Homo sapiens: one gene and its partners. The protein of the gene in region 1 purifies or fractionates together with the protein of each later gene. This does not show direct contact. Each region holds a gene or a part of one and is shown in the gene's direction. Other genes may lie near its edges. The genes, in order: CCDC12, BUD31, CDC40 and HNRNPC.

The links.
Region 2: the proteins of CCDC12 (region 1) and BUD31 purify together in Homo sapiens (affinity purification with mass spectrometry; 2 studies listed by BioGRID and IntAct, with this or other methods). This does not show direct contact.
Region 3: the proteins of CCDC12 (region 1) and CDC40 purify together in Homo sapiens (affinity purification with mass spectrometry; 2 studies listed by BioGRID and IntAct, with this or other methods). This does not show direct contact.
Region 4: the proteins of CCDC12 (region 1) and HNRNPC purify together in Homo sapiens (co-immunoprecipitation; 2 studies listed by BioGRID and IntAct, with this or other methods). This does not show direct contact.

The regions. Positions count from the first base shown.
Region 1 is NC_000003.12:46,924,544-46,931,993, reverse strand, and holds part of CCDC12 (coiled-coil domain-containing protein 12), read left to right. Parts: intron 1-6,458; coding exon 6,459-6,538; intron 6,539-7,450.
Region 2 is NC_000007.14:99,411,632-99,419,081, forward strand, and holds part of BUD31 (protein BUD31 homolog), read left to right. Parts: intron 1-313; exon of another isoform or gene 314-352; intron 353-557; exon of another isoform or gene 558-664; intron 665-2,346; exon of another isoform or gene 2,347-2,447; intron 2,448-4,506; coding exon 4,507-4,629; intron 4,630-5,107; exon of another isoform or gene 5,108-5,797; coding exon 5,798-5,964; coding exon of another isoform or gene 5,965-6,018; exon of another isoform or gene 6,019-7,450. UniProt on the Homo sapiens protein: Involved in the pre-mRNA splicing process. May play a role as regulator of AR transcriptional activity; may increase AR transcriptional activity.
Region 3 is NC_000006.12:110,225,096-110,232,545, forward strand, and holds the end of CDC40 (pre-mRNA-processing factor 17), read left to right. Parts: intron 1-1,071; coding exon 1,072-1,148; intron 1,149-3,736; coding exon 3,737-3,881; intron 3,882-4,858; coding exon 4,859-5,036; 3' UTR 5,037-7,137; downstream 7,138-7,450. UniProt on the Homo sapiens protein: Required for pre-mRNA splicing as component of the activated spliceosome. Plays an important role in embryonic brain development; this function does not require proline isomerization.
Region 4 is NC_000014.9:21,259,308-21,266,757, reverse strand, and holds part of HNRNPC (heterogeneous nuclear ribonucleoproteins C1/C2), read left to right. Parts: exon of another isoform or gene 1-365; intron 366-1,209; exon of another isoform or gene 1,210-3,421; 5' UTR 3,422-3,447; exon of another isoform or gene 3,448-4,164; intron 4,165-7,450. UniProt on the Homo sapiens protein: Binds pre-mRNA and nucleates the assembly of 40S hnRNP particles. Interacts with poly-U tracts in the 3'-UTR or 5'-UTR of mRNA and modulates the stability and the level of translation of bound mRNA molecules. Single HNRNPC tetramers bind 230-240 nucleotides.

The DNA.
Region 1 (7,450 bases):
ATTGGGGACAAGGGGTAGGTCTCTATGTGCAGAGCCTAAAGCAAACAGAGGATTATTAGGGGCATGTCTGAGTGTCATGAGTGTGTTTTCCTGGCAGAGCTCCAGTGTCTCTGTACTCTGAATATTAAAAATGAAAGTGTTCTTTGATCAAAGTTGCCAGTCTCTCTGGTCAGTGGTGGCCTCTGCAAGGCCTGCAGGCGCATCCTGGGCGTGGCCTTCCCTGTGGTCTGTTACTAGGAGGAGTGCCTCACAGCAGTTCTCTCTCTGGCCCTTGATGGGGCCTGTATGGCCAGGAGGGACCAGGGTGGCCAGGTGGAGGACCTTGTTCTCAGGGAACAGGCCATGTGGGACTGTCCTGTCCTTATCCTCTCTGCCTCCCTCCAGGGGCCCAGGGCAGCAGGTGAATGTGGAGTAGCCTCAAGATATAAGGGATGAGAAGGGAGGCTAGCGCCCCAAAGGATAAGCCTGGTAGCATGAGTGAGTGAAGTGGACCAGGGGCCATGAAACCCCCATGAGCAGTGTAGGCTTTGAGGCCAGTTTGCCAGTGATGGGGTTGGATCAGATTCATAATCTCAAAGCTTCCTTTCATTTCGCCATTCTAGAACTCTACTCTGGTTCTATACTTGACAGAGAACATCAACTTTCTCCACCTGCTTCCTCTCATTGGCACATGTGAAAAAGCACCCTAGGGGTGATTTCCCCTGAACCTCCCTGGCCAGCCCATGTCCCGGGCTCCTGCAGCTGGCCTGAAGCAGAGTAAAGTAAATAGAAAAGGTCAGCTACCCATTTTAGAAGGAAACTCTATGGAATGCAAACTTGGCATTCCCTGTTGCTTTGCCACAAAGAAGTTGCTTAGGGGTTGGCTGCCCCGGCCCAGCCACATTCCTGCCCTCTCTGCTGGGCACAACTTCTTTGCTTCCAAATGTCTTCTCAAGTCATTGAAAGGCTCAGAGAGCCCCAGGCTACCCATAAAGCTCTTTCTTGAGTGCCTTCTGAATTCCTTTATCCAGCTTGAGGCAATGTATGCTGAGCCCCTCCTGGAGCTGCCTGGTGCATTTAGGGCAGGCTGTGAAAGACAGACATGCAGCCGACACAGGGCCACGTGCATGGAGTGGGGCCTGCTGTGGAGAGGGTAGAGAGGCAAGTGGGGCAAAGGGGGCCCAGGAGAAGGGCGGTTACTGTGCCTCAGGGTGAGTAGGGACACTGGGAGGGGCCCACAGGGCCACCTCCTGGAGCTGGCTCTTTAAGCGTGATGGACGGGGAAGTGTGTAGCTGAGGGGGTGAGCAGGCTGTGGGGCCAGGACCACGTGAAGAAGCTTAGACTTGTTTTGGGGACACTGGGGTCCCTGAGTCAGAGGGAGGGCCAGTGGAGGCACTGAGGTGGCTGATGTGTCTGCTCCTGTGGAGAGACAGCAAAGCTCCACCCAGACACTGGCTGCCGGTATAGGGTGGACTTTGGGTGGCCTAGGGCATTTGGTGCAAAGGATAGTGTCTTAGAAGCCATTGGGCTTTCTGGGCTGCCCTCCTTCCCATAGACTCTGGGGGCAGAAAGCCCCAAAAAAGCATGGCTTGGTCTCTGCTTCCCTTTGGCTAGGGGACAGCCTGGCCCTAAGCCACAGAGACTGGCCACCAGCAGAGCTGAGGTGCTGGTGCTGCCTGACTCAGAACCCTGCCACAGTCTTCTGCTGCCTTATGGCCCCTCTGCCTGTTTCCTCTTTATGTTTTTGAGTACTTCGTTGGTTGTTTCTGTGTAGGAAGAATACTGATTAGAAATTCCGGAAACTACAGAAAATCAGAGAAGCAAGTAAAAATCACTCAGAGCTGGACATGGTGGCTCATGCCTGTAGTCCCAGCTATTCAGGAGGCTGAGACAGGAGGATTGCTTAAGCCCAGGAGATCAAGTCCAGCCTGAGCAACATAGGGAGACCCCCATCTCTTTTTTTTTTTTTTTTTTTTTTTTTTGAGATGGGGTCTTGCTGTTCTCGCCCAGGCTGGAGTGCAGTGGCACCATCTCGGCTCACTGCAACCTCTGCCTCCCAGGTTCAAGTGATTCTCCTGCCTCAGCCTCCTGAGTAGCTGGGATTACAGGCACCCGCCACCACATCTGGCTAATTTTTGTTTTTTTAGTAGAGATGGGGTTTCACCATGTTGGTTGGCCAGACTGTTCTTGAACTCCTGACCTCAGGTGATCCACCCGCCTCGGCCTCCCAAAGTGTTGGAATTACAGGTGTGAGCCACCATGCCCAGCCAAGACCCCCATCTCTTGAAAAAAAGTCAGTCCTAGAGATAACCACTGTCAACATTTTTGTTGTTTTTATTTCTTTTCTTTTAGCTAGAGCTAGTACCTTCTCCCCTTAGCAACTTCCTCATTCTAAAATGGGGGTGGCAGAACCATTGTTTGGCTCCAGTTGTCCTCAGAAAGGTGGCTTCCAGATGCCAGTGACTGCTGGTGAGTGCAGGCTGCTTCAGTATTTCCTGGCCAGCTGACAAGGTGTTAGGTGTTGGCCTGCCCTACTGCTCTGGCTGGCACCATCTCGTCACACCCTGCCCAGTCTCCAAGAGCTGTGGTGGCCCCGGACACTGTAAGGCTATGGGAGCTCCTAGGATAGCAGCCTGGACCTGCTTTGTGTGTGAACCTGTTGTCCTACTATTTGTTTCTTGACTTTCCTTTTTTATCTCCATTCTTGTCTCCTTTTGGATTTTTTTGTTTTTAATTATTCCACTTTCTTCCTCTGTTAACTTGTTAATTGTATGCTGTTTTCCCTTTCTTTTAGTGATTTCCACAGGCATAACAACATACATCCTTAACTTATCAAAGTCTAATAGAAAATAGTAGTATTTTTACCATTTCCTCTACAGTGCTTAGGACCTTAGAACACTTTAAGGCTATTTGCCACTCTGCCTTTTACACTATTGTTGCTATATTTTAAATACTATAAGTTGTTATTACTCTTTTATACAGTCAATATTCATTTAAATTCTCTTTTCCCCCTGCTTTTTTTTTGAGACAGGGTCTTGCTTTGTCACCTAGGCTGGAGTGCAGAGTGTGATCATAGCTCTCTGCAGCCTTGAACGCCTGGCTCAAGCAATCCTCTTGCCTTAGCCTCCGAAGTAGCTGGGATTACAGACACAAGCCATTGTATTTACCCTTTCTGAGGCATTTTATTTTTTCCCTGCAATTCCATGTTTCCGTCTGAGATCATTTTCCTCTAGCCTAAAGTATTCCTTTTAGTATTTCTTGAATAACGGATTCACTGATAACTGATTCTCCTAACCTTTCTTTGTCTGAAAAAGTCTTTCTCTTGAAGGCTTCTTAACTAGATTTAGAATTTTGTGTGACATTTATTTTGTCCACACTTCTGAGATACCATTTCATGGTCTTATGGTTTCCATAGTTGCAGTTGAGAAGTCAGTAGTCTGTTTTAGTTTCTGCTTAAACACACTTTTTTTTTTCTCTCCAGGCCCATGAGATTATATGAGGTTGGTGCAAAAGTAATTGTGGTTTCTGCCACTATGTTCAATGGCAAAAACCACAGTTATTTTTGCATCAACCTAATGGGAAGCTCTGCTCAGTCTCTCAGCTTTTCAGCTGCTGCATGTAAATAGACATGCTTTAAGGGGAAAGAGGGACGTGATGTCAGGCTCACTTTGTTGTACTTCCCTTATCTCCATGATTGCAGCCCCTGAAATCCTTGCTGTCTTGGTACTTCTCTAAAGCCATTTAAAATACATATATATACATTTTTTTTTTTTGAGACAGTCTGCAGCCTAGGCTGGAGTGCAGTGGTGCGATCTCAGCTCACTGCAACCTCTGCCTCCTCAGTTCAAGCGATTCTCCTGCTTCAGCCTCCTGAATAGCTGAGATTACAGGCATGTGGCACCATACCCACCTAATTTTTGTATTTTTAGTAGAGACCGGGTTTCGCCCTGTTGGCCAGGCTGGGCTCAAACTCCTGACCTAAAGTGATCCACCTGCTTTTATAAGGGAGGTTAAATCTTGGGCCTGTGTTGGAAAGGCCAGGTCCCCAAGCTGAACCCCCCCATGCTCCTTGACCTCTCCCAGAGACTCCTGTCCTTTGGTAGTGGTGGAATTCCGGGGGTGGGCAGTTAAGTGGGCATTAGGGAGGGGAAGTCTCTTAGCTCTCCACGCTAAGGGGACTGGAGGTCAGAGACTGCACCATTTTCACGCGATCACACAACAGTGGCTGCACATCAGATTAACCCTCCAAGAGTGAGTCTGGGGAGGGCGTGGACCCAGCTTGATAGAGCTGGATGCACCCAGCACAGCCGTAATGTTTCTAAATGTGGAAACTGAGGCCCAGAATGAGACCTTCCCATGGTGGTCGGGATCTAGATGTTCTTGGCTGCTTGGCCAGTGCTCCGCTCTGGGGGTGGCAGGGCACAGTGGGCGCAAGGCTCTGCTCCCGCCTCTTGCTTCTGGTTCACTCCTCCAGTTGGCCTTCTGAAGCCTCGGGCAGTGGGTGGGTCTGGAGGCATGGGTGCGTGTTGCTGCTGTGAGTTCTGGGTACAGTTCCCTGTGGCCTCTCCTCTCTCCTTCTGATTTCTCACAGAACCCTGGAGACCGTTTCTGAAAGCGACAGTTTTTTTTCTTACTAATCCCTGCAGTTTTCTTCCCACACCCAGTTTCTCTTCCTCATTTCTCCCCACCCTGTTGTGAACGAAAGCCTTTGCACCCAGTCATGCCCCACTTTGTCTCCCTGTACCTCTGTGACCTGACATGTACCTCCAGGCCCGAGGCAGGTGTTCAAGGATGGGGGACGGGGTGGGGTATCTCTGGGCCTTCTGGGAGTGCAGGTGGGCTTCCTCCACACAGGCTATGCTGGTACTGCCCCATCGCCCGCAGTGGTTCAGCCCAGCCCCAAGGCTCCAGGCTCAGGGGCCCTGGCAGGAAGGAAGGAGATGGTAAGTAAGCTGGGGGCAGGAAGCAGGTGGAGCCCTTAAATAGGAGAGTGAATAGCATCTGAAAGCCCCTGAGTCCAAAGCACTGCCGCTTGCTAGCTGTGTAGCCACAGACACCCCTGCCTCTGGGAAAGCTTGCTTTTGCAGGGCCTGAGGAAGTCAGCAGCACTTTTACCTGGTCCAGACAGAGGGCTTGGGAGATGGCAGACTGTGGGAGGCCTGTTGGGAAATTGTTTCCTGCCTTAGAGGCCCAGGACTTTTCTGAGGGACCACTGGTCAAGAACCGAAAGAGGTACTGGGGAAGGAGGAGGACCTGCGGCCTAGTCTCACCTGGCCAGCATCTGAGGGGCCACTCCTGCATCCCCTGGGGCTAGGGGTCTGTCCCACTGCCTCTGCCTTGCCTTTCTTAGACCCTGCAGCCCCCAGGACCTCTCGCCCTGCCGCCCTGTGGAGTTACCAGGGACACATTTTCCTGGGAGCCTGCTTCTGTGTGTGTGGGGCTAGGATTTGATGAGCCCCTGAGCCAGAGAGGACCCCAGTGAGTTCTTGGTTCAGCCACCCCTGCCTGAAAAGACTGAGGCAGGAAGAACATAAAAACATAGTAGCTAGCCGCAGCTCCTGCCGGGAGATTCTGGCCCCTTGTGGCTCCTCTCTCTTCATGGAGGCCTTTGGGGCTGTTCAGTTCTCACTGCTGTCCTGGTGGACTGTGGCCTTCCCAGCCTTGCACATGGTCATGCCTATTTTCACAGCCCTCACTGGCCACTCTCAACAGTCTTGGAGCTGAGTCAGCCTCTCGTGTGCTTTGTGCCTTGACCCTGTCCGCGTCATTGCAGGCCCAGGCGCCACCTCCTCCTGGAGTGTCTCCCCTCCACATTCCCACAGCTGTAGGCAGCCACGCCCCTCTGGAGCCCTCCAGCACCTGCTTCTCTGTCCACATGTCACTCCTCACTGCCACATGCCCCTGGCCCAGCACACCCAGATGCTTTTCTCTAAGTAGTTGAGGCGTATTCCATGGCATGAGCCCCAGGGCAGGAAGGCTCTGAAGAGGGGCCAGACTTGGGGAATTTGTGGGTGACCACTGGCCTTCTCTTTTGGGAATCACTCAGCCTAGGAGCTTTAGCCCTGGCTGGGAGTTATACATTGCCTTGAGCTAAGATGTGCAGCCACTGCTGTGTGATCCTATGAAAAGGGTACAGTCTCTCTGACCTCCAGTCCCCTTATCTGTCAAATGGGATGATCCAGGAGAGACACCCTGTGAATGCTCCCTAGGCGTCCTTGGCCCAGCTCTGGAAGAGAACCGTACTCCAACAGAGTAGACAGGGCCTCTGGAGGGCAGCCAGTCCCGCTAAGTGGCAGGGGACGGTGCCAAGGGGCCTGCCTGATGACACTCCATTCTGTGCTTCTCCTCCTTACCAGGCTATCTCCAGAGAGTGCAGAGGAAATTCAGGAATTCACGGGCTATGCAAATTGTATGAATGAATGAATGAGACCATGTCACACACTGACTTCATCTCTGCTTGTTCCCTCTATTCTTGCAGGGAACTTAGGCTGCGGAACTATGTCCCGGAGGATGAGGACCTGAAGAAGAGGAGGGTGCCCCAGGCCAAACCGGTTGCAGGTAAGCAAGCTGTCCCTCTCCACCTCTGCTTCCTGGCACTGTCAGCCACCCTCCACCTCAGCAGGCTTTGCTCTCTGAGAATAACCAGCAGTACCAGGACAGGAGTTGGGCCTGCAGGCAGGACCCTTTGTTACCATCTCATGGCAGATGCACACAGTCGGCCTTCGGCAGCAGCAGAGGCTGTCGGGGCACTGAAGAGTCCTCTTGTGCCTTCTCAGTCCTGCTCACACCCTGAGACCGAGGCCTCCCAGGGATCTGAGTGGGGTTTGAAAAAGGCCACATCCTCTCAGAGGACTCCTGGCTGAGAAGTGGATGTGGTCATGGGGCCCTTGGGCAGCAGGGCAGGGTGATGGGTCCTGTGGGCCCTGGGTGGGTCAGAGACAGGGGCCAGTCATTCAGCCACACACAGCAGTGGACGGGCAGTGTGGAGCACTGAGGCAGGGGAGAGGGCCTGGCCCAGGGCTTGCCTAGACTCTTGCCATGGCGTGGGAACAGCACAGCCACCAGGAGCTTCTGGCCGTCCACACCACTCATGCCAGGAAGTTTCTTAGTCCTGCGGATCCCTGGGCCCTTGCCCTGGAGGGTCCCCATTTTAATTCTTTATGTTTGTTATTTATTTTATTTTATTTTATTTTATTTTGAGATGGAGTCTCGCTCTGTCGCCTAGGCTGGAGTGCAGTGGCATAATCTCAGCTCACTGTAACCTCAGCCTCCTGAGTAGCTGGGATTACAGGTGTGTGCCACTGCGCCTGGCTAATTTTTGTGTTTTTAGTAGAGACAGGGTTTCACCATGTCGGCCAGGCTGGTCTTGAACTCCTCCTGACCTCAAGTGATCCACCCGCCTTGGCGTCCCAAAGTGCTGGGATTCCAGGTGTGAGCCACTGTGCCTTGCCTTGTTATCAACTTTTTTTG
Region 2 (7,450 bases), on another chromosome or scaffold:
TGGAAATTTTATCTGAAGCCACAAGCATCTGTTGGCCTTATATGATCACAGTGTGGCCACTTACCAATTGACTTTTTTATTTTTATTTTTTGAGTTGGAGTCTTGCTCTGTCTTCCAGGCTGCAGTGCAGTGGCGTGATCTCGGCTCACTGCAACCTCTGCCTCCCGTGTTCAAGTGATTTTCCTGCCTCTCAGCCTCTCGAGTAATTTGGATTACAGGCATGCGCCACCATGCCCGGCTAATTTTTGTATTTTTAGTAGAGATGGGTTTCTCCATGTTGGCCAGGCTGGTCTCGAACTCCTGGCCTCAAGTGATCCACCCACCTCGGCCTCCCAAAGTGATGGGATTACAGGTATGAGCCACTACACCCAGCTGAAGTTACTTTTTAAAGTAGCTTTTGAAATGCTTGCTTGTAACTAACCTAATCATGGTTATTATGAGGTCGTACCTCCAGCAGTAATTACTAAATTAAATCAATGTTAAATTACTTTGCCCCTTTTTAAAAAAACTGTTCGTACCAGATAACTTCTATTAAATACTCAGTACTTGTTTTGCAGTTTAGATTTGGATGGGCCTATTGCAGTAATCACGGTCATTTTGGGCTGAGAGATGTCTTCCCGAAACAGCTCTTTATCAAAATAAAGGAAATGGGAGCATGCTGGAATAGAAGAGATTTTGCAAGTCCTTGAAAGTAAATTAACTTCATCTTCTAAAGGGTGACTTTTGAGGGAAGGAGGAACCCTACTTTGTGTTTAGATATTCTTTACCTCCAGACAGAAGTATTCTTTGTTCTGTTTTCTTTTTGTTTTTGTTTTGAGACAAGGTCTCACTTTGTTGCCCAGGCTGGAGTGCAGTGGTTCAATCACAGCTCACTGAAGCCTCCACCTCCCAGGCTCAGGTGTTCCTCCCACCTCAGTCTCCCAGGCAGCTGGGACTACAGGCATCCACTGCCACGCTTGGCTAAGTTTTCTTTTCTTTTTTTTCTTTTTTTTTTTTTTGAGACGGAGTCTCGCTCTGTCACCCAGGCTGGAGTGCAGTGGCGCGATCTCCGCTCACTGCAAGCTCCGCCTCCCAGGTCCACACCATTCTCCTGCCTCAGCCTCTGGAGTAGCTGGGACTACAGGCGCCCGCCACCATGCCCAGCTAATTTTTTTTTTTTTTTTGTATTTTTAGTAGAGACGGGGTTTCACCATGTTAGCCAGGATGGTCTCGATCGCCTGACCTTGTGATCCACCCGCCTCAGGCTCCCAAAGTGCTAGGATTACAAGCATGAGCCACCGCGCCCGACCAACGCTTGGCTAATTTTTTGTAGAGATGGGGGTGTGTTAGTCCATTTTCACGCTACTGATAGACATACCTGAGACTGGGCAATTTACGAAAGAACGAGATCTAATGGACTTACCGTTCCATGTGGTTGGAGAGGCCTCACCATCATGGCAGAGGCCAAGGAGGAGCAAGTCACGTCTTAACATGTGTACCTGCTGAATCTTTACTACCTGCTTTTCTGCTTGGATCACAGCATTCTGTTTGTTGAGCTGAATTGTAATTCCTAGGTAATAGAATGGCTTAAAAGCTGGAGACAGGGAGGGATAGTCTTCTTGACCACTCTTCGCCCTTCTGTTCTTCCCTAAAAACTGAGGAGGTCATAGACAAAGATGAACTTGTGACTGCTGAGAGAGAGAGAACTGCCTTGCGGCAAGTATGAGTGCCACCTGATCCTGCGTGTGTTGAAGGAGCAGCTTCTGCTGTGGCTACTTCCCTCAGAACCTGTAGACTGGTCTAGTTTATTTAGCTTTTCCTCAGCCCTAAAGGACTTTGGCTGGGAGATGAAATTAGAAGTGCCTTCAAGATGATTAGGATGCCCATCTGTGGGCCTAGAATTATCTTGATTAATTATTACGCTGTAGAAATAGATCTGAAAGCATAGGGACCAAGGTTGGTTTTTTGGCTTTTTTTTGTTTGTTTTGTTTTGTTTTTTTTTGAGACAGGGTCATCTGTCATCCAGGCTGGAGTGCAGTGGCACAATGTCAGCTAACTGCAACCTCTGCTTCCCAGGTTCAAGCACTTCTCGTGCCTCAGCCTCCCGAGTAACTGGGATTACAGGCATGTGCCACCATGCCCAGATAATTTTTGTATTTTCAGTAGAGACAGTGTTTTGCCCTGTTGGCCAGGGTGTTCTCGAACTCCTGACCTCAAGTGATCCACCCACCTCGGCCTCCAAAAGTGCTGGGATTACAGGCGTGAGCCACTGTGCCCAGCCGGGACCAACCTTTTAACAGAAGTTACCATTAAATGTCTTTAAAAATCTATGTTTTCTAATTCTGTAATTAAAAAGACTTTTTTTCTTGTCACATGGGTAATGTGCCAACGTTGTGACAAGGTTTGAGAGTGGCATGTCTCACACATGGATGTGAACACCCAAGCACACTCATGAATTACAAAAGGATCCAAAAATAGACATTTTTAATTTAAAACAATTATGTTTAAATTACTTAGCTTATTTTTTATTTTTTTATTTTTTTTTTTGAGACGGAATCTCACACTGTTGCCCACGCTGGAGTGCAGTGGTGCGATCTTGGCTCACTGCAACCTGTACCTCCCGAGTTCAGGCAATTCTCCTGCCTCAGCCTCTTGAGAAGCTGGGATTACAAGCGTGCACTACCACGCCCGGCTAATTTTTTAATTTTTAGTAGTGATGGGGTTTCACCACGTTGGTCAGGCTGATCTCGATCTCCTGACCTCGTGGTCCGCCCACCTTGGCCTCCCAAAATGCCCGGCGGCTTATTCTGTTTTTAAATAACAGCTTTATTGAGATATTAATCATATACTGTAAAAGTGAACCTGTTAAATTATCCAATTAAGGGGTTTTTAGTATATTCACAAAGTTGTACGACCATTGCCACAGTTAGTTTGATGTTTCAAGGTTCATCTGTGTTGTAGAATATATCAGTACTTACTTCATTCCCTTTTTTTTCTTTTTTTGAGACGGGAGTCTTGCTTTGTTGCCTAGGCTGGAGTGCAGTGGTGTGATCTCAGCTCACTGCATCCTCCGCCTCTGGGTTCAAACGATTCTCCCACCTCAGCCTCCCAAGTAGGTGGGATTACAGGCATGCGCCACCATGCCCTGCTAATTCTTTTGTATTTTTAGTAGAGATGGGGTTTCACCATGTTGACCAAGCTGGTCTCAGACTCCTGACCTCAAGTGACCTGCCCACCTCAGCCTCCCAAAGTGCTGGGATTACAGGTGTGAGCCACCGATTCCGGCCAGCCCTGTTTAACTTCTTGAGGAGCCACCTAACTCTTCTGCAGTGGCTCCACCATTTTACATTCCCACCAGGAACGTAGGAGAGTTCCAATTTCTCCACATCCTTCCCAACACTTGTTATTGTGCCATAATTTTGATTATAGTCATCTGTAGGGTCCAGCCCCACAGGGTCGGTGGGTTTCTCCCCGTGTGTGGAGACGAGAGAGCGTAGAAATAAAGACACAAGACAAAGAGATAAAAGACAGCTGAGCCTGGGAATCCCACCAAGACGCGGAGACCGGTAGTGGCCCCAAATGCCAGGCTGCACTGATATTTATTGGATACAAGACAAAGGGGCAGGATAAGCAGTGTGAACCATCTCCAATGATAGGTAAGGCCACATGGGTCACGTGTCCACTGGAAAGCGGGCCCTTGCCTGCCTGGCACCAAGGCAGAGAGAGAGAGACAGCTTATGCCATTATTTCTGCTTATCAGAGACTTTTAGTACTTTCACTAATTTGCTATTGTTATCTAAAAGGCAGAGCCAGGTGTACAGGATGGAACATGAAGGCGGACTAGGAGCGTGACCACCAAAGCACAGCATCACAGGGAGATAGTTAGGCCTCTGGATAACTGCGGGCGGGCCTGACTGATGTCAGGCCCTCCACAAGAGGTGGAGGAGTAGAGTCTTCTCTAAACTCCCCCGGGGAAAGGGAGATTCCCTTTCCCGGTCTGCTAAGTAGCGGGTGTTTTTCCTTGACACTAACGCTACTGCTAGACCAAGGTCCGCTTGGCAACGGGCATCTTCCCAGATGCTGGCGTTACCGCTAGACCAAGGAGCCCTCTGGTGGCCCTGTCCGGGCATAACAGAAGGCTTGCACTCGTTTTCTGGTCAGTTCTCACTATGTCCCCTCAGCTCCCATCTCTGTATAGCCTGGTGTTTCCTAGGTTATGATTGTCGAGTGAGGATTATTATAATATTGGAATAAAGAGTAATTGCTACAAACTAAGGATTAATGATATTCATATATAATCATATCTAAGATCTATATCTAGTATAACTATTCTTATTTTATTTATTTTATTATACTAGAACAGCTCGTGCCCTCGGTTTCTTGCCTCGGCACCTGGGTGGCTTGCCACCCACAGCCATCCTAGTGGGTATAAAGTGGTATTTATTCATTATCAGTAGTTACTTACAAAAAGAAAATCCTGCGCAGACCGACCCTATTCCCCCAAACACACTCTTTGTTTCTCCCCAGCTGAAACAGAACCGCATGAGGGAAAGAGGAAAGTGGAATCTCTGTGGCCCATCTTCAGGATCCACCACCAGAAAACCCGCTACATCTTCGACCTCTTTTACAAGCGGAAAGCCATCAGCAGAGGTAATTAGTCAGTCTCTCTTGGACTTTGAAGCTCGCGTCACTTTTGGAGTTACTGAACTAACCACAATCCTTATTCTCGCAACCTGTGCAAGTCATGGTTTTTCTTACCACGAAAATTAGGGGGAGCCAACGTTGGCTGAGTTTTGTGTGTGTGTTTGTTTTTTGTTTGTTTGTTTTGAGATGGAGTCTCACTCTGTCACCCAGGCTGGAGTGCAGTGGCGCAATCTTGGCTCACTGCAAGCTCCACTTCCTGGGTTCAAGCGATTCTCCTGTCTCAGCTCCCAAGTAGCTGGGATTACAGGCACCTGCCACCACACCTGGCCAATTTTTGTATTTTTAGTAAAGATGGGGTTTCACCATATTGGTCAGGCTGATCTTGAACTCCTGACCTCAGGTGATTCACCCGACTCGGTCTCCCAAAGTGCTGGAATTATAGGCGTGGTCCACCGCTCTTGGCTTTTTTTTTTTTTTTTTTTTTGAAACAGGGTCTTGCTCTGTTCCACAGGCTGGAGTGCAGTGGTGCAATGATGGCTCACTGCAGCCTCAACCTTCTGGGCTCAAGGGATCCTCTCACCTCAACCTCCTGAGTAGCTGTGACTACAGGTGTGCACCACCACACCCAGCTAATTTTTAAATTTTTTGTGGAGATGGGCCCTTGGCCCAGGCTGGTTTCTTAACTCAAATGATCCTCTGGCGTTGGCTTCCAAAAGTGCTGGGATTACAGGTGTGAGGCACCTTGCCTGGCCTAAGTACTTTTTTTTTTTGTTCCTCCTCCAAGGACTGTCCCGTTGCAATACTGAATGCCTTTTTTTTTTTGAGATGGAGTTTCGCTGTCACCCAGGCTGGAGTCCAGTGGCACGACCTCAGGTCACTACAACCTCCGCCTCCTGGGTTCAAGTGATTCTCCTGCCTCAGCCTCCTAAGTAGCTGGGATTACAGCTGCTACCACGCCCGAGTAATTTTTGTATTTTTAGTAGAGACGGGGTTTTACCATGTTGGCCGGGCTGGTCCTGAACTCCTGACCTCAGGTGATCCGCCTGCCTCGGCCTCCCAAAGTGCTGGGATTACAGGTGTGAGCCACTGCACCCGGCCTGAATGCTTTTTTTGATCAAGGGTGGGGAAGGTTTTTAGACCATGGCCTGATGCTCTTTCCCCATCTTTTTGACAGAACTCTATGAATATTGTATTAAAGAAGGCTATGCAGACAAAAACCTGATTGCAAAATGGAAAAAGCAAGGATATGAGAACTTGTGCTGCCTGCGGTGCATTCAGACACGGGACACCAACTTCGGGACGAACTGCATCTGCCGCGTGCCCAAAAGCAAGCTGGAAGTGGTAATGTCTGACACTCAAGCTTGGTGTTGTTTTCAGCTCAAAATTCTGCCTTAGTCGACTGCAAGGGATCTTATGTTATTTGGTTGGGCTGGAATGTCGTTTTGTCCCTGGATGTCCTGCTGGCTCTCCCTCGTGGGAGTGGGTCCCTGTATTCAGGAATCCATGTGAGGCAGCGTGTGGCTGTGTGTTTGTTAGGTCTGGGGTCAATCTCAACTCCACTTTTGGGCAAATTACTGAACCCCTTTCCTCACTTAGGAAATGGTGGTGGGGAGCCCTAATCCCAAGGTGGTGGCAGGGTGACATCAGGGAAGGACAACCAGTGAGTTCCTGTCCCTTTCAGTCCTCACAGTGATACTTTAACATTACCATCACTATCTTTCCCGCCCCCCCAAGACGGAGTCTTGCTTTGTCGCCCAGGCTGGAGTGCAGTGATGCCATCTTGGCTCACTGCAACCTCCACCTCCCGGGTTCAAGCGGTTCTCCTGCCTCATCCTCCTGAGTAGCTGGGACTACAGGCATGCACCACCACGCCTGGCTAATTTTGTATTTTTAGTAGAGACGGGGTTTCTCAATGTTGCTCAGGCTGGTCTCGAACTCCCGACCTCAGGTGATCCACCCGCCTCAGCCTCCCAAAGTGCCGGGATTACAGGCATGAGCTACTGCGCCCAGCCCACTGTGTTTCTTCTTTCAGAACTTTCTGTTCCAAGTACCACTCCTAGGCCAGGCGCCTCAGGAGTGGTGCTGAGGGACAGGAGCTGAGCTCCATCCGGTTCCAAGCCCCTCTGAAAGGCAGCTGTGGCCCGAGGCAGAGTCACAGCAGTGGCCGCTCAGTGCAGCCCCTCAGCACAGTTGTTGGCCCCACCGCCCATCTGCCAGCCTGGCCTTCTTTTCCCCAGCTCCACACAGGGGCCTCTTCACATGAGTCCCCTTTATGCTGCAGTGAGACTGACAATGGAGAGCTGTGGCTGGATGCTGAGGACTTGGGTACTGAGCAGTGGGGGCGAGCAAGGGCCGCCTCCCCGACGGAAGACTGGGGTGTTGGTTTTCTGATGGAGGCAGGGACAGGTGGCAGAGTGGCAGAAGCCCCCTTCCTCTGAGTGCCCAGATTCCACAAGGAGTCCAGGTCAGGGGCTGGTGGGCTGGGGTGCTGCTTCAGCCCTGTGGCCAAAACAGCCCGCTGTAGACTTACCTGGGTTTCACCAGAGGATCCTGTTTACTTAAACTATGGTCTTGTTCTTCCAAAAAAAGAACTTGAAAAAGTAAAATAAACACAAGCCACTGTTCTAGGGCTTTCTGGCTGGCCAAGTGTTGGGCCGCACCAGGCCTGGGGGACAAGACCCTTCTTTCTGGGGGGCTCTGGGCCAGAAGGGTGTGACTCAAGTGCATAGTCTCCTGCCCTCTTCCCCCACCAGAGTGTACCAGCCCAGAGGCCCCCCTGAAGTCCCCAAACAGTAGCAGAGCCACGTCTGCTCATCGCAGGGTCTGT
Region 3 (7,450 bases), on another chromosome or scaffold:
CATGACCCTGATAGAAGTTTTTTCTAGTCATTTCCTCCTTCTGCTGGATGGATGGATAAATAGAGAAAATCCTTATATTAAGGCAAATTACTATTATTTTCCAGTTAATCAAAGTATTGGAACTTGAAACAGGGTTTGAAATTGAAATTGCTGCTGTATAATCTGTGTTATTCATCAGATTACAAAAAAAATATTTCTGGTCTCATGAAAAGCAACAAGACGAAAACTCCTTTCAGAAAAGAATTTTTAGCATGGAGAATATTAAAAATGAAAAGGCACTTAGAACTTTTGATGGTTCTAAATTTAGGTGGCTACTTTTTAATTTTTTTTTCATTCTTTCATCACTCACATGAGGTTTTTTTTTTTTTTTTATGTTTTTTCTCCTTCACCAAACACATTTGAAATGCTTTACATGTAAACTGAAGATAGTCCAGGTACCAAGCATTTATTTATCATCATTTATCATCATTTCTGGATGGGCTAGATCAGCTCACAGATCCCTACAGCTTTGCCTGCCATCCACCTGCATTGCTGCAGGCTGTTTAACACTCTCACCTCCTCAAGTTAAGGTAGGCTAGCCAGTAAATAACACTTCCCCATAGGCTTACCTCAGACATCTTGCTTCACCCTACCATGGTACATTTTTAATTTAATTTTTGGTTTTATTTCAACAGCTTTTGGAGTAAAAGTGGGTTTTGGTTACATGGATGAATTATATAGTGGTGAATTCTGAGATTTTAGTGTATCCATCACCATGGTACATTATTAAAGAACTTTCTTTCAGTAACAGATTTTTTAACATAAAGGCCAAAGTTTAAATGAAATAGAAAACAAAATCACCACCACTGTTATAATGATCATGGAAAGTGATTTATGAAGTACAGGATTTACCATAAGCAGTACAGTGTCATCTTGTGATTTTTCTTCTTCCAGAAAGTTTCATGAAAGATTTATTAAATATATAATATCAAGAGTTTGCTTTTATTTGCATATTATTCCTTTGTTCCAGAGATAATTCTGAAGGTACTTTTTAAAAGTTGCTTATTCTGATATGCTATTTAAAATTTTTAGGGATATCCCTGTGGATTTCAAGTACATAGCAGAACCCAGTATGCACTCAATGCCTGCAGTGACTTTGTCTCCAAATGGTGAGTTAGTATGTAGATTGTATTTTTAAATGAGCTTCTAAGATACAGTGTGATTTCTTTATTCAAAAGAACTTTGGCCCCTTCCTTCTTGGGGAAGTTTGTCACTGTGCCATTATTTGTATAAGGTAATCTTTACAATATTAGAAAGAATTACTGGTTTTCATATGCAAGTCACCTCACCTACTTTTCTGTGTCTCTTTTTAAATAAAAATAAAAGAAACAATGATTTACAGCTAACATTGATTGAACATCAGATTTTTATTTAACAATCAGTTTTCTTTTCTTTTTTCTTTTCCCCTCCTCTCCCCTCCTCTCCTCTCCCCTCCCCTCTTTTCTTTTCTTTTCTTCTTTTCGAGACAGGGTCTCCCTTTGTTGCCCAGGCTAGTCTCAAACTCCTGGGCTCAAGTGATCTTCCCTCCTCAGCCTCCCAAGGTGCTGGGATTACAGGCCTAAGCCACTATGCCCGGCCAGAGTTTTCTTTTCTAATTCTCCTTCCAAACAGAATCACGTTCAGTAAATCATTTAATAATGATTTGGCCAAGGCAGAAGAATCACTTGAACCCAAGAGTTTGAGACTAGCCTGGGCAACATAGAGAGACCTCATCTCTACAAAATAAAATTTTAAAAATCAGCTGGCATGGTGGTGCACATTTGTAGCCCTAGCTACTTGGTCAGGCTGAGATGGGCAGTTTGGTTGAGCCAGGAGATTGACTATGATCATGTGACTGTACTCCAGCCTGGGCAACAGAGCAAGACCCTTCTCTCTAAAAAAAAAAATAGTAATAGTGATTTACTGTAAACTCTTTCAGGGGATAGGAAGTTTTGGTCTGATTCTCCATAATGAGAGAACACTTTAGCAATTCACTATAAAAGATTTTCTCAGGCAAAAATTAAGAAGATAAATCTATTTAATATTGTTTAATCCATTGTCTTTTACGTACAAGATAATTTGTGCTACAGATATACTGACAATATACTGATGTAATTATAGCTTTACATGAGAGTCTTAAAGTGGGAGTTCTGATGTTTGGGGGACCTTGTCATTGAAACCACTGTCAATTCACATAATTAACTCCAAGTGTAGGGCAAGGAAGAATTTGCTGTTCCATCAGGGCCTCTGACACAAGCAAATGGTAATAGTTGTCAAATGCTCTATCATTTTTATGAGAAGAGAAACCTAACTGAACCTTTTTTTGATCATTGCTAGATTATATACTTCGTCACTGTGCATCTATATTTCATGTAGCGTATTTTTAAACCACCTATTACAGATTTTGTGCCCATCTTGAACAAGGCCATTTACCCACTCAGGCATTATTTAAGTCTGTTTCCTTAGTAAGTAATGTTTACATGTACAGTTGGCCCTTTGTATCCATGAGCACCATATCCTGGGATTCAACCAGCACGAATCCAGAATATTCAACAAAATAAACAATAAAAAATAACAATACAACAATTAAAAACAACACAGCATAACAACTAGGTACAAAGCATTTACGTTGCATTAGGCATTATAAGTAATCGAGAGGTGATTTAATGTATACAGGAGATATGTAGGTTATATGCAAATACTATGCCATTTTATATAAGGGACTTGAGCATCTGTGAATTTTGGTATTGGGTAGGGGTGCAGATCCTGGAACCAATTCCCAACAGATACCAAGGGATGACTATATATAGGATGCAAGTATAGTCATGCATTCCTAACAACAAGGGTACTTCTGAGAAATGCAGTGTTAGGTGATTTTGTCATTTTGTGAACATCACACAGAGTACTTACACAAACCTAGATGGTATAGTCTACTTACCCTAGGCTGTATGGTATAGCCTGTTGCTCCTAGGCTTTACCCCTGTATGGCATGTTGCTGTTCTGAATAATGTAGTCAGTGGTAAGCATTTGTGTATCTAAACATAGAAAAGGTACAGTAAAATCTCAGCATAGAAAAGGTACAGTTAAAATTTAGCACTATAATCTTATGGGACCACTGTCATACGTGCGGTCCATCATTGACCAAAACATTGTTAAGTGGTGCATGACTATAGACGCTGCAGTTTAGGCTCTAGGGGCTTTGATGAATCCTAAGTAGAGAAAAGCATTGTAGCCTTTTAAAAAGTTACTATAATTTTTAATATATCTTTTTTTGTATAGTTTTATTTAATAACCCTAGGCTTTCTCACCCCTTAATCTTTCTTTATTCTGTAATTACCACAGATAAGTCTCTTTCTCCTATTTCCCATAGTTCTGTTGTCTATACTTACTATAAATTAATTTCATTTCACAACTTTTAGCTTATTTCTTTAACATTAAGCTTGGAATTTCTATATTTCCTTATTTTTTTAAAAACTTTTATATGAGAGTGCTCAATGATATAGGATCGTATATGCAAAAGCCATTAGTTTATATATTAATACCTCTTGCCAGTGACATATTTATAACATTTTACAGGTGGTATAGTAAATTTATTTTTTAGTATTATAAAGTATTTGGGAGCAAAACTTATATTAATCACAGTGAACATATTTAAAATAAAAAGTTTTAAAAATTGTTTTAGTCTTCCTCTAAAATACCTCATTTATTGAATTTACAGGAAAATGGCTAGCATGCCAATCAATGGACAACCAAATCTTAATTTTTGGAGCACAGAACAGATTTAGATTAAATAAGAAAAAAATTTTTAAGGGCCATATGGTAGCAGGCTATGCTTGTCAGGTGGACTTTTCACCAGACATGAGGTAAGTTTAAATCTTCTAATCCATTCTCGTATTCAAATATGATTATATAAACTGTTGTTGTACAAATAACACTTGACACATCACTCTCACATAATATGTTTTTATGAGAACTCGATGATCTGTCAAAATTGTCAAAATGCTGGATATAAAGGCAAGAACAAATTAGGAAAATTACATTTTGCTTTTTTTAGGTTCTTGCTTCAGTATATTCCCTTCTATTACTTAGGCTTATGCCCTTTAGCCACCTAATAAATCCCTGTCTATATAACCAATGCCTTATTTTCTCTGCTTTTCTAAGCAAGACTAGAAGTGCTATAATCACTGTATTGCTATGATTGAATGAACACCAGAAGAATTAATTGTGTATTACAGTGTTGCAGTTACAGCTTCACTACAGCTTGTCTGTGCTGAAACCTCAAATCCAGCTTTTGAATATTTCTAGGTCACACTGGATTTGTGAAGCCTACAGCATGGTTCTTAGTTAAAATGTATAGGCAGAAGTAATTTAGAAATCCCAGTAACTTTGTTTGTTTAGCCTAGTAATTGGGCCTACCTCTGATTCAGTCTTAGATGTATTCAAAAGATATTAAAGCCAAAAAGTAATTATGAAAGTGTTAGAGCCTACTGTGATAGAATAGATCTAAAGGTGTTCCCTAGCTATATGTGGAATTGGTTCTCCAGTCTCTGTTTCTGACTATCTAGAGACTGATTGTGTAACCTCATTCACTGTGGCTCCTGGGACTCCCAGTCTTCCCAGTTAAAAATAATTTTCTACTCTTAGATTGGTTGGGAGGTTTTTTTAATAGAATTTCAAATTATAGACTGCTTCATGTTCTACCATCTTATTCTGAGTATTGTATATTTGCATTGGATTTTTTTTTTAATGTTAACGTGAAAAGATAACGTCCCTATTCCTCATTCGCCTTACCAATTTAAGGTATTTTAATAATTTGAATTTATCTTTCTTCCCATTATAGTTATGTGATTTCAGGAGATGGAAATGGAAAATTAAACATTTGGGACTGGAAGACCACAAAACTCTACAGTCGATTTAAAGCTCATGATAAAGTGTGTATAGGTGCAGTGTGGCATCCTCATGAAACTTCTAAGGTCATAACATGTGGTTGGGATGGTCTCATTAAATTGTGGGATTAATGAGATTAATCCTTAAACTAGCTGGGATCATTTTTGATCCATTGTCATATTTATATTTAATTATTAAATGTATCTGATGATAACTTGATTTACAGATAATGTTGATGACATTGACCCTTTGTTTAAAAAAAGAAACTGTAAATTTGACATAATTTCATTTGCAACTTCATTTTGTTTTTTATAAATGTTATTTATACAGAAAGTGGCTATTGACTTTCTATTTGACAAGTAGTTATAATTGGCAAGCAGTTTGAGTTTATACTCATGACATACTGAAAGCATCTCTTTGGGGTCAAGAAAGAATCCCTAGTGGATTTGGGATTCTAGAGGAGGTGTTATAATTAATTATTCAGAAAAATGCATGTATTTACCTCTTCAACCAAAAGGGCAGTAAAGAATAGGGATAATATATTTTAATGTAAATTTGGAAGAAGGATAAAATCACCCACAGTTACTCTCCCTATTATTTTCACTGGGTCAAGTTTTAATCTTTTGGCTTCATGAGTTCCACTCCCTTTGATGATATATGTTGTATATTTTTAGTTGTAAAGCAGTAATCTTTAACTGTAGCATTCCTCTAATTATAAACAGTGAAAAATCAAAATCAGTCCAGAGTTCTTTTGTTGACTTAATTCCTGATCAGTATAGACAGGACTATATATATTTAATCAGAGAATTACATTATATCTGAAGATGGAGCTCAGGAGAATGCACCAAGACTTTGAATTGTATTTACATTCACTGTCAGTAAAGACCTGGCTACGCTTTGAGAAATCAGGATCTCCTAGGTCATTGCTTCGCAGCTGTGATTACTGAAATCCTCCTCATAGGAGATAAAGTACGAGGGGTAGAGTCCAAGATGTCAACTTGTAATTTCTTTGAAGTCATATGTTTTATCTTTAAAATTATTCTTATTTTACCTGTGAATATATACAACAGAACTTTTTAAGATTAAAAAATTTTTAAACCTCTATGTCTGAAAAAAAAAATGACACTCCTGGAAGATGGCTAGGGTTCCCCAGTTTGAGAAGCAGTGGCCATGGTGAAAAATAGTTTTTGAAAACATCAGATTATAAAATCAAGATAGTCCGGACGCGGTGGCACATGCCTGTAATCCCAGCACTTTGGGAGGCTGAGGCAGGTGAATCACCTGAGGTCAGGAGTTCAAGACCAGCCTGGCCAACATAGTGAAACCCCGTCTCTACTAAAAACACAAAAATTAGCCAGGCTTGGTGGCTGGCGCCTGTAATTCCAGCTACTCAGAAGGCTGAGGCAGGGAGAATTGCTTGAACCCAGGAGTGGAGGTTGCAGTGAGCTGAGATCATGCCACTGCACTCCAGCCTGGGCGACAGAGCGAGACTCCACCTCAAAAAATAAAATCAAGATAACCTCTTGAATGTAATAGCTCATAGCACTTTAATTTGGCAAGCCATTTTTCCTGTTTTATTATAAATCTATATTAGATGTTTGAATATGGTTTGAAATATTTCACTACCGTGCTGAAAAAGGTTGGTTGATAGCAGCTTGGAGTGCTAACTGGAAGATCAAAATCATGTCTCTTGCTGATAACCTAAGAGCATTAAGCTCTGAGTCCAGTGAGGTCATAGCAGTGTATGCTCCTTGCCCTTACGGAGTGTCTGTTTTTAGAAATTTAGATTTTAAAAGGCGTGGGACATACGACCAGGCCCTATAGCCACATAAATATAAATTTCATAGAAAAAGAATAAAAGCGGAGATATATTTTTTGACACAGAGGCACCCAAAGAAATACAAACATTGCCTAGCTGCTGCCATTTCTGTAACTGCCCAGAAGGGTGACAGATTTCTGAAGGGGAAAGGATTCAGATATGACCTTTTCTTTAGTCCCAACCACTAGTTTTAACAAATGTGAATTATTGAAATGTGAAGGGACAAAAAGAATCATACATTTAAACTGTCTTGTTCAGCATACCAATATTGTATGTTACAAATCATCATTTCTAAATCTGGATTGATTCTGTTGTGTTTTTGACTGTTTCTAAAGTAAGTGTGTATAAAAGTCTCCTTTTTAAAAAGATCATATTTTTAAATAAAGCATTTTTTGTAGAAAGTGCTATCAAAATGTTCATCTTGTTCATCTTTAGTCTCCTTTTGAGTCTTAAGTGTATTGAGACACTAGATTAAGCCATTTGCAGTTTTAAATGGGTCATATGGAGAGAAATAATGCTTTAGAGGTGGATGTGGTTTATTCAGGTATATCAGTGGGTTTATAATTATATAATAAAATACATGGCAGTACCCTCAGAGCACATTAACACATTCCATATTCATTTAGTGGTGGCACTAAGTCATGACTACACAACATTTTAGAGTACATAAATGAGTGGGGTTATATTTCAGCATAAAAAGTCTCAAGATCACATTGTTACTGGACT
Region 4 (7,450 bases), on another chromosome or scaffold:
AGTCTTCAAGTACTTTATTAGTAGTTGTCTCTGGGGAGCATTATTTGCTCTTAATATGCATATTCATGTATTCTCATTGGAAATGGGAAGGTTTTGGTTTTGTGCATACTAGATTTACTAGAGGATTGGTGAGAACCAGAACTTTGAGGTGTAGCATAACTACAGGTATTCTCGATATTGGAAATTTTGAGTTTATTAACATAAAAGGAAAAAAGGTTTCTTTGGTACATTTACTATCATAGGTTATGTGTTTTTGGATTTATTTATATTGTATCAGGAAAACATTATTTGGTGCTCTAACTTGATTCTGTCACAGTACACTGGAAGGTCAGGCATTTTGTTTAAAGAATTGATTCTAAGGCCGGGTGTGGCTGCTCATGCCTGTAATCCCAGCACTTTGGGAGGCTGAGGCGGGTGGATCACGAGGTCAGGAGTTTGAGACCAGCCTGGCCAACATGGTGAAACCCCCATCTCTACTGAAAATAAAATTAGCTTGGCGTGCTGGCGCTCGCCTGTAGTCCCAGCTACTCGGGAGGCTGAGGCAGGAGAATCGCTTGAACCTGGGAGGTGGAGGTTGCAGTGAGCCATCGCACCACTGCACTCCAGCCTGGGCGACAGAGTGAGACCCCATCTCAAAAAAATGATAATAATTGATTCTAAACTGGGGAATAGAGAGATTCCCAATTTAAAATCTTCACAGTGGTTCTCAAACGTTAGCCAACACCAGAATCAATAGGGCTAGTTAAAACAGATTGCTATGATCTCTACCACAAGGGTTTCTAATTAAGTAAGTCTGGGGTGGGCCCTGAGAGTTTGCACTTCTAGTAAGTTCCAGGTGATGATGCTCATGCATCACTCATTCTGAGAGGTGCCCCTTTAGAAGAAGGGATCCAAACCTCAGGCAGGTTTTGACAAAGAATAACCTAGAGATACTTTTTTTCTAAAACTATCTCTGAGCTTTAGGTAAGGATACTTTTTTTCTTTGAGAGCCTCACACTGTCACCCAGATTAGAGTGCAGTAGTGTCATCTCAGCTCACTGCACCCTCTGCCTCCCGGGCTCAAGGGGTGCCCTCAGCCTGCTGAGTAGTGCTGCTAATTTTTTGTATTTTTGGTAGAGGCAGGGTTTCGCCATGTTGCCAGGCTGGCCTTGAATTCCTGAGCTCAGGTGATCCACCCGCCCCAAGCCTCCCAGAGTGCTGGGATTACAGGTGTGAGCCACGCCGCCTGGCCTCAAGGAATATTCTTGATTGAAAATGGTGCTAAAGTTGGTCTTTTTATGAGTGGTAGCTCTTCAGTTTAACATAAATAACATCTTGGGAGATACTGAGCTTTTTGATATTGAAAGATAGAATTGGTTTCTTTTCACATTTTTCTTTATTTTTAAGCTTATGTCTTGTGGCACCTGTACAAAGGACTTGGTTGTGGTTGAGCTATAAAGTTATGTATCTTGAAAATTGATTACCAGGTTTGGGCTGTGGCTCCAAATAAGAAAATGAAATGTTTCACCATAACTGTATTTCATAAACAGGAAAAGAACATTCAGATGTATATTTCTTACAATTCTTCACAAACTTTTTCCGCAATTTGTACATTCATACAGTTTTCACACATCAAATGTAAAAATTAACTGTCATTCCTACACTGTTCTTTTTAAAAATGTATGGTACTTGTTGCTGCTGTAGTCATTCATGTATAGTTGGCTCAAGGAACACTTCTAAAAGCTCAATTAAAAATTTTTTTTTTGAGACAGGGTCTCTCTCTGGCCTGGCTGAAGTGCAGTGGCGTGATCAGAGCTCACTGCAGCCTCGAACTCCTGGGCTCAAGTGATCCTCGCTCCTCAGACTGCTAAGTAGCTGGGATTTCAGGCTACCACACCCTGCTAATGTTTTTTGTTTTTAATAAAGTCTCGTCATGTTTCCCAGGCTGGTCTCAAACTACTGAGCTCAAGCCGTGCTCTACCCTGGCCTCCCAAAGTGTTGGGATTACAGGTGTGAGCCACCACACTTGGCCTTAAAATATTTTAATTTCCTCAAATTTACAAAGGAGAATAAGACCTCATGGCTAAATTGAACAGTGAGTGCAGCTAGTTCATTGTTTGCACAAGGAACTACAGTCTAATTGCAGTTCCTATTTTAGCTGATGAAACAACCAGTTTGTCATGGAAATTATTTTAGTGTGGTATTATGTACCAGATTTTTAGAATCCATAACTTGAAATTAGCTTTACACGCTACATAGTAAATAGTGGACTACAGAAACAAAAGTATTAACATAAGGACCTTAATTTTTTTCACCTATTTTATGACCTTAAATATTCAGTATTTTTTTAATTCCATCTGTATTTTCGTTTTGTCAGTGAGTGGAATAATGTGCTCCTTATTTAAAACATCTTTTCCCCTAACAGTAGAACCTATTAGGTCTTGTGGTTTGATCACTCACTGGTTTTGAGAATAGATGAGTCATCTCTAGTATAGATCTTCATGGTAGGCCATTCACCTTCAGTCTATTACTCATAGCAAAAACTCCACGGACTTTTTTAAGTTTAAAACCCATGAATCTGCTTAGGTTTTATAATCTCAGTATTTGACATTTGCTCACTATTTCATCTCTATTTGTTGGCCCGGTTTTTCTGTATTTTCTTTGCCCAAACTGCTCATTATCAAGATGAACATTTGGGATATACTCTTTTTGAGACCCTCAAGGGCATATTGACATGAATTTAGTTAATTTTAGTCATCTATTGATGTTGAAGAATTGTGAAGACAGTCACTGGTAGAGGTGATTCTATGGAGGCTATCCCATCCCAGTGGAATGTTAATGCTTTACCAAAATGTGTTAGCTGCAGTAGACAGATGTTTCTGTCTTGGGGGTTTAGGGCACAACATTTCTGAGGAACTCTGACTCAATCTGTCCCTTCTCCTTTCACAGGGCAGCAAGGCGAACCCCATCCCTACTCACTGGAGCTCAGCTTTGATTTTTAACCTCCCTTCCCCACCCTTCCAGAACACACACATTCCATTCCAAAACTGATTTTATAAAGACATTTTAAACATAATGATGCAACTTGGTGTGCACTACAGCAAATGTACAGGTGTTTTTTTTTTAATTGTTTCCAAAACCGGGACCTGGATTTAAGATGTAATTTTTAAAATTTCTATTTCTATTTTTTCTGCAGCAGTTGGGTTAGAGGAGGAGGAGCCTTTTAGCCTCTCATAAACTGACCTCTCTACTTCCTCGTGTATTTTTAAGATTGATTGATGATGTGGAAAGGGCTTTGCTTGTCTGCTACTGAAAACTTTATCCTTGCGGTTTTTGTGGAAACTGCTTTTGGAAAGAGAAAAGAAATGAACTTTACTGACTTGACATTTTTGCACCTCCCGTTTTTCTAATCTGGGCTATTTTTATTTTTGTTTTTTTACAGTGAGATTTTTTTGATCTTCAGCTACAGTAAGTTATTCCAATTTTTTTTTAACATTTTTCCTGACTTTCCGCTGATTTCCTTTTTATTGTTGTTACTAGTTACTATTACTTATTATTATTATATTAATACTTATGATGGTGATGATGATGATGATAATGACACTGATGATTTTTAACCGGATTAAAATCGAGTTTTTCTGAATGTTTCTAAGAATTTCTCCGGCCTCCTGATTGACTTTGGAGTTTTGCATCTTGGGAGAGAAAGCGAAGGCATTAGTATTTTTAAGTGGTTTGATCACGTAAACCTTTTCTCTCCCAACCCCACCCTTGCCCTCATCCCCTTCCCCACACTGAAAAGAATTTTACTGGCTGTTAAGTCTATGACCTTATTTTTCCTGATCTTTAACTTAACTGTTTTAGAGCATCTCTGGACGTCTGTATTTTTAATTTTTTTTATTTTTGTTTTTTTATTTTTAATCTTTCATTTGTTAAATTTTTAAACTGTGCTGCAATAAAATGTGTGTGGTACTACTTAACACTTATGATCGTGATGGCATTTTCCCTGAAAGCCATCTTCCTCCTGTTTCCCTTGAAATCCCATCCTGCTTTTCCTGTACACTACCCCTCACAAACCACAAGCTGCAGCAACATGGATGCCCAGCCTGGAGCAGCAGCAGCCAGGATGACCTGGAGCCAGGGGGGCCTTCGGAACAGATGCACACCCTTCCTGGGTGATGGTAAGAGGTGTGAGGTCCACTTGGATTCATTACAAAGACTAGGAAATAAACCCGTTTAACAGTTTAGCTGATGTGTATAGGTCATAGCATCTGGAAGTGTTTGAAACTTTTGTGTGTGCATCTTGAGGTGTTTCCCAAGGGGGACCACCTCAGTTATTTGTAAACTAATGGAATAATATGAGTTGCTAATTAACTTGGGCTGATTAGAACATTTTGGATACTTGGAAAGAGCAGCTGAAGTTTAAAATGAAAGTGGCTTGTTTTAATGATTAGCAACAAGAAAACATATTGGGGAGTCCCTTTTTTTAGATTGTTACAAATCAGTAAACATTTTCTGTCATTTAACATATTCCTTGGGTTTGTGACATTTTTGGATTATATTCTATTTAGACTTTTTATCTCATTAATATTTCACAAGAGTCAAACCATAGGAGATACAACATAATATTAAAATGCTGTCTCACTGGAGGGCTTTTAAAAATTTGAAAAAAGGTAGGCTTTTTGACCTCACAAAGCAGGGAAATCTGTTTAACCTCTACATCCAAATTAGGAACTGTCTAAGGCTGACCCCTTTTACAGTGGTGACTCAAGACCCAGCTAGATTTTGGGAATTCTAATGTGAATTCATAGAGTTCTAATGCTAGATTAGGAACTCTAATGTGTTCTGATGTTAAGAAGGAGTGTATTCTGTGTTATTCACAGGAATGGTGTAGAGATTAGTAAAGATGTGGATAGCCAAAGAGAAGTTGAGCAACCCGTAGTATTTTACTCACTGCAGCAAAATGTTTTGATAACCATTTTAGAGTTGCTCTGATAGGTTTCAAGCTGGGAGATAATTAGATTTTATTTTAAAATATTTCTATTTTTTGTAGAGACAGGGTCTCGCTATGTTGTCTAGGCTGGTCTTGAACTCCTGGGCTCAAGCGATCCTCCTGCCTTGACACCCCCAAAGTGTTGACATTACAGGCATGAGCCACTGCACCTAACCTGGAATAATTTTTTGAAGGCATATTCGGTACTGTTGTACTAGGGTAAATCACAAACTTGCCCCCTTATACCATACTCGGATGAAAAGTGAAATCTAGTTAAAGTGAACACCAGAGGTACACTCAAAACAGAATGGGAGAAAAAGCAAAAGATTCCTGGAAGTTATCTAGAAAAAGAATGGGAATCTTTATTTTTTAAATAAGTGCAAGTTTTATTGATGCTCTCTATTGTATGAGAGCTATTTTTTCTTCTTTGCTGCTGTCAGTGTACGGAAGCTGTTCACTATAGGTTCAGTTTGATTTATTCCTTGTTAATTCTACAAATTTATTATTTTTATGGGACATGTTGTGTTTGGGGATATAAAAAATAGTTTATTATGTTTAAGGGCTTCGCAGCTTAGTGAGGGAGACACATGAATGAAATAATGTCCATATATGATGAGAGGTAAACACATATCCTATAGAAGCATGCCAAAATAAGCTGGGGGCGTTGGTACCTGCCTGTAAGCCTGTAGTCACAACTAATTGGAAGGCTGAGGCAGGAGGGTCCCTTGGCCCAGGATTTGAGAGACTGTAGTGTGTGATGTGATTATCCACTGCACTCCAGGCTGGGCAACATAATGAGACCCCATCTTTTTTTTTTTTTTTTTTTTTGAGACAGTCTCGCTCTGTTTCCCAGGCTGGAGTGCAGTGGTGCCATCTTGGGTCACTGCAACCTCCACCTCCCGGGTTCAAGCGATTCTCCTGCCTCAGCCTCCCGAGTAGCTGAGACTACAGGCACGGACCACCATGCACGGCTAATTTCTGTATTTTTAGTAGTGACGAGGTTTCACCATGTTGGCCAGGCTGGTCTCAAACTCCTGATCTCATGGTCTGCCCGCCTCGGCCTCCCAAAGTGCTGGAATTACAGGCATGAGCCACTGCACCTGGCCTTAAATTTTTCTATTTTTAGTAGAGACAGGGTTCAGTAGAGATGCCATGTTGGCCAGGATGGTCTCAAGTTCCTGACCTCAGGTGATCCACCCGCCTCAGCCTCCTGAAGTTTTGGGATCACAGGTGTGAGCTGCCGCACCCAGCGAGACCCCATCTCTTTTTAAAAAAAGAAAGCATGCAGAAATGGTTACCTAACTAACCCTGAGAGGTCAGGGAATCCTTTTTTTATTATTTTTATTTATAACTTTAAATTTATAAATTTATTCCTTCTACCTTAATCACATAAAGGGATTTTTTTTTTTTTTTTTTTTTAAATAAGACGGAGTCTCGCTCTGTCACCTAGACTGGAGTGCAGTGGTGTGATCTTGGCTCACCACAACCTCTGCCTCCTGGTTTCAAGCAGTTCTCTGTCTCAGCCTCCCGAGTACCTGGGATTACAGGCACCTGCTACTATGCCCGGCTAATTTTTTTTTTTTTTTTTTGAGATGGAGTCTTGTTCTGTTGCCCAGGCTGGAGTGCAGTGGCACGATCTCGGCTCACTGCAAGCTCTGCCTCCCAGGTTCACGCCATTCTCCTGCCTCAGCCTCCCAAGTAGCTGGGACTACAGGCGCCCGCCACTACGCCCGGCTAATTTTTTTGTATGTTTAGTAGAGACGGGGTTTCACCGTTTTAGCCGGGATGGTCTCGATCTCCTGACCTCGTGATCCGCCCGCCTCGGCCTCCCAAAGTGCTGGGATTACAGGCGTGAGCCACCGCGCCCGGCCCACCTGACTATTTTTTATTGTTTTTTTTTTTTTTTGGTGGAGACAGGTCTCATTTTGTTTCCCAGGCTGGTCTCAAAAACTCCTGGAAGATTTTAATTTTTAGGAATGTCTTTCTAATAACAGTATGGAAATGGTGTAGAGGAAATGAGATTGGAAGTAGGAGATTAATAAAGGAGATATTAAAATCCAAGAAAGAATAACGACCTGGCTTGGACAAAGGTAATGCTATGAGATTAGAGATTAGGAGGTAAAATTAGGAGCATCTCAGGATGGATGTGATAAGGTGGACAAGAACACAGATTTGGCATGATTGCTGGTTTCTAGCTTCTGGGATAGGGATAGATATTGGGGAATGAATGAAGGGAGCAGATTATAGTTTGAGGGTGGGAAAAAGAATATTTTAAACATCTTGGAGGTATTCAAGGAACATTCAAGTATAAGATGTTTTATTAAGTATCTGAGTACTATTTGAAAATCATTAGGTTTGGGCATATAGGGATGAACAAAACATGTCCCCTGCCCTCTTAGATATTATAGATCATTGAGGGAAGAAACAAAGTAAATGGCACTTTTCACAGTAAGGATCGATGAAGGAAAAGAAGAGCGTGGA